2 linked regions of the Homo sapiens genome follow. The protein of the gene in region 2 interacts with the protein of the main gene of each other region in a pairwise test. Each region holds a gene or a part of one and is shown on either strand. Other genes may lie near its edges.

Region 1 (3,500 bases), on a different chromosome or scaffold from region 2:
GGGGCACCTTATGGAACTTGGGTCCTGACCTTCCCTTCCCTTATAGCATTGTGGCCTCTAGGATGTGAGAAGGGAAATGGGATGTAGGGATTAGGGAGGTGAGTTGAGGGAGAGAGAGAAGGTAAGCAAATTTGGGTCCAGGGGTATTAGGGGATAGCTTATAATGAGGTTTTTTTTCCCACCCCTCTCCCCTACATGAATAATTGGGGGTGCAGGGAAGGATGTGACACAGGGAAGGAGATTTAAGATCTCAAATTTATCTTCACTGACATGTGGCCCCAGAGACTTAAGGAATTGGGTTAGGGTGAAATAGAGTACACAAGGTGAGAATTTGGTGATCTTACCAAATATCAACCTTGGGGTGATCCAAGGATTTATATTCATTTTTAGAACATCACTATACACCTAGAAATAGGTGTGTGTCTGGGATAGGTGTGTGAGGGGACAGAAGTGAGGTTGAAGGTAGGGTGCTTGAAGAGAAGAGAGCACAAGGATTATCAGGAGCTTGGCAAGAGAACTTAAAATCCTTTTTGACTGTTACTTTCTCGTGGTTCTCAGCCTTCAGTGTACATAAGAATCACCAGAGGAGTTTGTTAAAAATACAGATTCTAGCTCCTTGGTCAGGGATGAATCCCAAGTATTTATCTGTATTTTTACTAATAGACATCCTATCTTGGTGGATTCCTGAGCTGTAAGCTAACCCCAGAATGCCTATGGGAAGAGCAGCAGGGTACAGGAAAATAATTAGGTATTAGGGTACGGGAGGCAGGAAGAGAAGTAGAGGATCAGATCTGGTAGAGGGTCAGACTTGGGACAGTCAGAGAGATCATTGGTTTTGGGGAGTGGAGTGTGAAGAAAATGACAGGGAGAGATGGGTGCAGGCTTTATGATAGGGGATCACAGGAGATAGGGGAGGCCTGGCTGTGAGCTCAAACTCATCCACCATGACAGGTGATTCCCTGGAGGTGGCGGGGAGCAGACGTGGGACCTGGGAGAAGGGAACTGGAGAACATCAGAGGCATCAAGCGGGGTGGGATGGGAAGGCAGAAGAACCAGAATGTGTCAATTGGAATGAGTCGGTTTCCTGCCTGCAAATCCAGATCCTTGCAAGAGCAAAGAGAGGGAGGAGAACTAAGGAAATCTATTGGGGAGGGGGAGAGAATCACGTGGTGGAGAGAATCTGCAGTGATGAATAGTGTGTGGAAGAGGGAAACGGTTGCAAGAAAAGGTAGATAAGAAATCAGGAAACAAAATGGGGGGCATGCCTTGCCCTGTTGATATGTATCTTATATGTTCTTGTATGTCCTCATTGTTCCTATTAACCCTGTCTTTAGAGAAGTGGAGGGGCACTGAGGGGCTGTGGGAGAAGCTGGGAGCAGGATCTGGAGTAATAGATGTGGGGAGAGTGCAGGAAGGTGGGTCCTGAGAATGGTAAAGATTTACAAAGTTGCCCTAGTGGGAGGCATAAAGAGAAAACCTTCCAATGTTGTTGAGCACTGCCCTTGGCCAGAGTGAGGGTAGGGTGGGCAACAGAGAATTCTCAGTGACTGCTGGTTCTTCAGATTCCAACAGCTTCCCCTGGCTCCCCCTTCTCCAACTTCCCACCGTGTCCCAAATGTCAGGCCTCAGTGGGAGGTAAGCAGGCTCCAGAGTGCTTTCTTTATTTCCTTTCTACTTATCCTCCCCTCCTGGCAACATTTCACCCTCCTTAGTCCCCTGAGCCCCCTGTCTGTGTCCCCTCTGCCCTGGCTCCCCACTGGCTGCCATTTCGTCTTCACATGCATTGGGGTTCCAGCAGCTTCTGAAATGTCATATATCAGTGGGAGGGGAACAGGCAGTGGGAGACCCAAGGCTGGCTCTTCCTCCCCCATTTCCCCTCCTCCCAAGCTTCCTTTCTTCTCCAGCTTTCTGCTTGTTTACTTTCCCTAGCTCCAAGCCTCTCTTTAAGGCACCTCTCAAATTGTCTGGTTTCTTGAGAGTTCCATTCTATTCATTCTCTCTGTTCTTTCCTCATCCTACATTCTTCCCTACTTCCACCCCCCAGTGTCTTTTTTTCTAATGGACCTGTCAAATGTCAGCGCCCAGCAGGAGGGATGGATCACTGAGCGGGACCCCCTACTGGTCTTGTTCCTGTTCTCTCTTTACTTATCACTAGCTCTGAAAAGAGAAGAGGGAGGAAACAAATGGAAGGTGGGGAGAAGGGGTTTGCAGAGGTGAGGAAGGAATTTTCATAATATGGCTTTGAGCAAGCTATCTGGGGATGTGGAAAGAGTTTACCGTATTCCTACTGACTTCTTCCACCCACTGGTGTTTGAAGCATAGAAACATGGGGTAAAGGGCTTGGTGACAGAGGGAAGGGGGATGTCTGAGGGTGAGCTGAAAGGAGGTAAGGTGGTATGTTCATTAATACCAAAGGAGGGGTGTGCAGGAGAGGTGATGGGTAAGGCTCCAGATGGAAGACAGAGAAGGAAGTTTAATGAAAGAGGAGAAAAAAGGCACTTGACAGGAAGAGATGCCAGAAAGGAGAAGAAAACGGTAATTAATGATGAAAGTGAGTAATTGAGAAAGGAACTAATTTGTTCGAGAAAGATAAGAGCAGGAATTGCAGACAGGGGAGGGGCCCCAGGAGAGCTTGCCCTCATCTCCTCTTGTCTTTCAGTGTGATCCAGGCCAAGCCACCAAGTACCTATATGAGCTGCTCTACAACGACCCTATCAAGATCATCCTTATGCCTGGCTGCAGCTCTGTCTCCACGCTGGTGGCTGAGGCTGCTAGGATGTGGAACCTCATTGTGGTAAGCAGGGCTATGGGGGTCAGAAGATGGGGTCATTCCCTTTTGAGCTCTACTGAAGGGACGATGGCGATTGTGGGTTTGTATTGAAAAGGAGTGTGGAGGACCTGCTACTAAGATTCAGAGTCCTCTGCAGACCTGAGCTAGGCAGCCTCCTAGCAACAGTGGCCTGACAGTGCTGCAGCTGACCTCCTTCTTCAGAAGGAATTGAAATTAGATCAGTGAAAGAGCATCCCGGTTGTGAGGGGTGTGTGGGCCTTTGAGAATCTCTTTTCCTTAGGCAGACCAGAGGTGGGGAGGTTTGGAGAGAGTAAGGAAGAGAAACCCAAAGGCAGGAAGAGGGTTAAAGGAACTCTTGGCCACTCTTGGTGTCCTCAGTGAACAGACCCTGTTGCACTCACTCTCCCTGCCCCACAGCTTTCCTATGGCTCCAGCTCACCAGCCCTGTCAAACCGGCAGCGTTTCCCCACTTTCTTCCGAACGCACCCATCAGCCACACTCCACAACCCTACCCGCGTGAAACTCTTTGAAAAGTGGGGCTGGAAGAAGATTGCTACCATCCAGCAGACCACTGAGGTCTTCACTTCGGTGAGGAGGGGTTGGGCAAGGGGTAAAGGGACATAAGCTCAAATTCCAGCACCAGGAGATGTGACGTGAGAGTCACTTTTAGGGGCAAGAACTTGATTCTTCATTGAAAGAGAACGCATTC
Region 2 (4,457 bases):
TTAGGGAGGATTCCCTCTTTTTCTATTGATTGGAATAGTTTCAGAAGGAATGGTACCAGCTCCTCTTTGTACGTCTGGTAGAATTCAGCTGTGAATCCATCTGGTCCTGGACTTTTTTTGGTTGGTAAGCTATTGATTATTGCCTCAATTTCAGAGCCTGTTATTGGTCTATTCAGAGATTCAACTTCTTCCTGGTTTGGTCTTGGGAGGGTGTATGTATCGAGGAATTTATCCATTTCTTCTAGATTTTCTAGTTTATTTGCGTAGAGGTGTTTATAGTATTCTCTGATGGTAGTTTGTATTTCTGTGGGATCGGTGGTGATATCCCCTTTATCATTTTTTATTGTGTCTATTTGATTCTTCTCTCTTTTCTTCTTTATTAGTCTTGCTAGCAGTCTATCAATTTTGTTAATCTTTTCAAAAAACCAGCTCCTGGATTCATTAATTTTTTGAAGGGTTTTTTGTGTCTCTATTTCCTTCAGTTCTGCTCTGATCTTAGTTATTTCTTGTCTTCTGCTAGCTTTTGAATGTGTTTGCTCTTGCTTTTCTAGTTCTTTTAATTGTGATGTTAGGGTATCAATTTTAGATCTTTCCTGCTTTCTCTTGTGGGCATTTAGTGCTATAAATTTCCCTCTACACACTGCTTTGAATGTATCCCAGAGATTCTCGTATGTTGTGTCTTTGTTCTCGAATAATGAGTGTTTTTCAAAAGGTGGTCCTTGATATACATTATCTTCAGAAAAACGGTCAGCCAATATTTTTTTTTATTTCTTTAATAGACAACCATAAAGAAGAAAGAAAGGATGAGGGATGTAGAGACTGGGGAAACCAACACTGCTCACACTTGCTGCTAATAGCGTGACTTTGAATTACCCTGCAGTTCTTGATAGATATTATCAAATACAGGGAGCAGCAACTATACAGTCCCAGTGAGAGTCTGACACATCTATAGTATAAGAGAAGAATGATAGTTTTGAGGGGAGATTCTGAGAGTTTCCCCTCAAAGCACACAAAATTTAGATTCCTCTCTGAATTTTTTTCTTAAAAGATGGTTCGGTCCATAGTTTTTACCAGATCCGTAAATGGATCTATTTCTCAAAAGTGTTGAAGATCATCTATCCTTAACACCTTGTAACTACTACTCTTACAATGGGAAAGAAGGGTCAGGAAATGGGAGTCTCATGACATAATAGACACAGCACAGGGCCTATTACTGAGGATGTGAACATTTTATGACCTCTTTTCCAGGAAAGAGAATTAACAAAAGGGAGGGAAGGATTTTTGAAGTTTGGGTAAGAATCTATAGCTCCTTTCAACTCTCTCAATTTCCCACTGCTCTATCATCTCTCAAACAGGCGGGTAACTGGAAATAAAAGAATGGCTCTGGAAGGTGAACTCTATCCCTTGAAAATTGATTGAGAATCTGCAAGCAAATCACTTAATCTGTTTTGCAGTCTCTGAAGCTAAGATTGCCTTGGTTCTATGAGTAGAGCCAAGCAGAGCAGTGGCATGAACTAAAGAATAAACAATATTCAGTTTGTACTTTCTTTCCCAGAGTTCACTGGCACAGGAGGGATTAAAGACTCAGTATGAGTATTTTTCTAAAGTCACCCTACACCCTGATGTTTCTCATAGCATGTCTCTGGATCATTAATGTGTTTCCAAGCAAATAGTTTCATATGGAGCGTTTATTTACCCTTATTATTAAGATGCGTGTGTTTCACTGGAAGCATTAGCTTTGAGGCCTATCAAGCACATGATAGAAACAGGCATGCAAAAGGAAGGAGTATTCTGTCCAGGGAGCATGAGCAGGCAAGCTCACCATTGGAAATAGTGATGAAATAACAGGGAAATACAACTGAAAAACACACTCAAAAATGTATTACATAAAATAATTTACTTCTCATTCAGCGTGACCTTCCAGACCTATTAGTAAGACAGCAGTCTGTGAGTTCAGATACAATCTGAAAGTCATGACAATTATAATAGGGCAAGACCAATAAAGTTACACATTTGAAGTCAACTAGAGACAAAATTGTGGAACTGTGTATAACAGAAAATGACACTGATGAGGAACTCCAGGGATATTAAGGGCAAGATTGCCAGAGAGACAAGAAGGGTACAATTAGAAAACCTGCATCTTTAATACAGTGAGATTTGTATGCATACACTCTGGTGTCTTCATTTTGCAGCCCATTATATTGGCTTAAAAGCCAGAAAGGTGCTCATGCATGTAATTTATACTGGAGCAACGAATGCAGTGTATGTGGACGCGTGTGTGTGCACTTTGAAAGGCAGTAGTTTTAGAAGAATGAGAAGAAAATTACTTCCTGGGCATTCATTAATAATTCAGGTGATATCCTGTACCTCCATTTATAAAACAATATAATAATAATAACACGTACAAAATAACATCATAAATAACATAAATGAGAAGTTTTCAAGTATTTCAATGTGCCTTGAAAAGTTTCAAACAGTAATTCTCACAATTGGTTAGACAATCATTTTTTTTTTCTTTTCTTTTCCTCTCATTTAGTCTCAGAGCCTAAAAAGAAATGCCTCCAGTCTCTGTTAGCCCCGATGTTTGGAATGAAATTAACAAGATTCTACCTTAAAAGAGAAAACTTATGTGGGCTTTTCAAATTGTGAAAATTTGTTCCCTCTTATAAAATATAATCTTTCCCCTGCTGCTGGTTTATAAATATAGGCATATAGCCCAGAGCCATTATAAAGAAAAAACAACCAACCACAATAAACTAAGGAGCCTCATCTGATGGCTAAGGTTCTCAGGAAAAAATGAGAAGAGCACCTTGATCAGGAAAGGAAAAAAGGATAGAGGATAAAAACAGTAACCTTTAACTTCTATGCCCTCACTCAGCCAGTAACTTACGGCAGGTGTTGCTGGCAAGGCCTTAGCTGTATTTCTTCATTAAGTTGAACATCCTGTCTGCCAACTCCATACCAACCCAGCTGCTAATAAGCATGCCCTGAGCACCCAGGAAAAGAAGGGAAGGCTGGCAGCTTAGGAGCTCAAAAGTGCCATCAGAGAAAACCAGCTCAAGGGAGCTAAGGTATTTGCTCCTTAGAATAGTGCTCAAGGTGGAGGCTGTCAGTGGTCAAATCAAGCATGAAGTTCCTTGGATGCTTCTCCAGCAAGATCCATGGAATTTTACAAAACCAACTTTCCACAGGTTAGCATTTCTTTCTTAGCCTACATGGCAGTTAGTTCATTTTGCCCTGTTCAAATGTAGTATGAAAGAACAGAGATCAAAACACCCATGTAAGTACATACACATACTCTAGTTATGAGCACCTAGGGTCTTTCCCATCACTCTTGCAAAAGTGTGTGTGTGTGTGTGTGTGTGTGTGTATACATACACTCACACATACATATGTATACACAGACATCTATATACAGAAATAATGTATATGTGTGTCTAATGTATATATAATATATACACATAGACATACACACAAGCACATATCATAGCTCAACCTCATCTAAACATCTAGAGTCTGGAGAACGTGCTGGCCAACAGAATACATGTGCATGTGGATGTCATGTGACATGCACTAACCAACCATCCCGAGGTAAAACTGTTGGGAGGAGGAAACTGCCAACAATCTTTGAAAATCCAGACCTACCAGGCCATTATTTAGATATTTGCTCCCATGGAACCCTCAAAGAAACTTAGGAAAATTGGACTGGAATGGGGTCCCACCCTGATGAACACTCAAACACCAAAAGCTATATCTAGTTTATGCGTAGAAGTGACTCACACATGGCAGGCAGCATGAATATTAGGCTACAATGTGGATAAAGCACTGGAGCTTAATACAGATCAATATTTGGCCTCAGGTTTTCCAGAGCATAGAGTCTTGGCATTTCATCCCTCTGCCTTCAGGTGAGAATTAGGCACACTGAGGGACCAGGGAAGCACAGTCTGCTGAACTCTTGGCTCCTTTCTGCTTTTCTGCCCCACAGCTGGACGGGTTGACCAAATCAAGATAGAATCGAGACTTGAGGAAGCGGCGGTAGGAATCCTTCTCCATCAGGTTGAAAATCTTCTTCTGGGCCTCATCAAAGCAGGTTATTGTAGGCTCTAGCATGTTCCGGCTTGTCTCTTCCCTGGTGCAAGAATCCAGGTTCACCTGAGGGGCAAAGGCCAAGGCTTCATTAGACCTATATCCCTGTTGAGGATGCAAGCCTGTATGCTTTGTAGTGACTTGTAAGTGGCAGTGCACCCTCTGTATTTCAGAAGCAAAAAACAAAAGTGACATTGGGGTCCTCCTTGGCACATGTGAGAGAGTATGAAAGGTTCAGAATGAACCTTTCTGCTTTAGAGAGAGCAGGGCAAGATCTTCTGTTCTGTCTAACAAATTGGGGAGATTCATCAGAAAAATTCATGCAGGGAGGTTATGGTAAGCCACATGGATAAAAGAGATTTTTTAAAAAA

The links.
Region 1: the proteins of RGS4 (region 2) and GABBR1 come close enough for resonance energy transfer, tested with the Homo sapiens proteins (one study listed by BioGRID).

What each region holds. Positions count from the first base shown.
Region 1 is NC_000006.12:29,623,184-29,626,683, reverse strand, and holds part of GABBR1 (gamma-aminobutyric acid type B receptor subunit 1 isoform a precursor), read left to right. Parts: intron 1-2,659; coding exon 2,660-2,794; intron 2,795-3,208; coding exon 3,209-3,379; intron 3,380-3,500.
Region 2 is NC_000001.11:163,074,016-163,078,472, reverse strand, and holds the end of RGS4 (regulator of G-protein signaling 4), read right to left. Parts: intron 4,153-4,457; coding exon 3,913-4,152; 3' UTR 1,671-3,912; downstream 1-1,670. UniProt on the Homo sapiens protein: Inhibits signal transduction by increasing the GTPase activity of G protein alpha subunits thereby driving them into their inactive GDP-bound form. Activity on G(z)-alpha is inhibited by phosphorylation of the G-protein.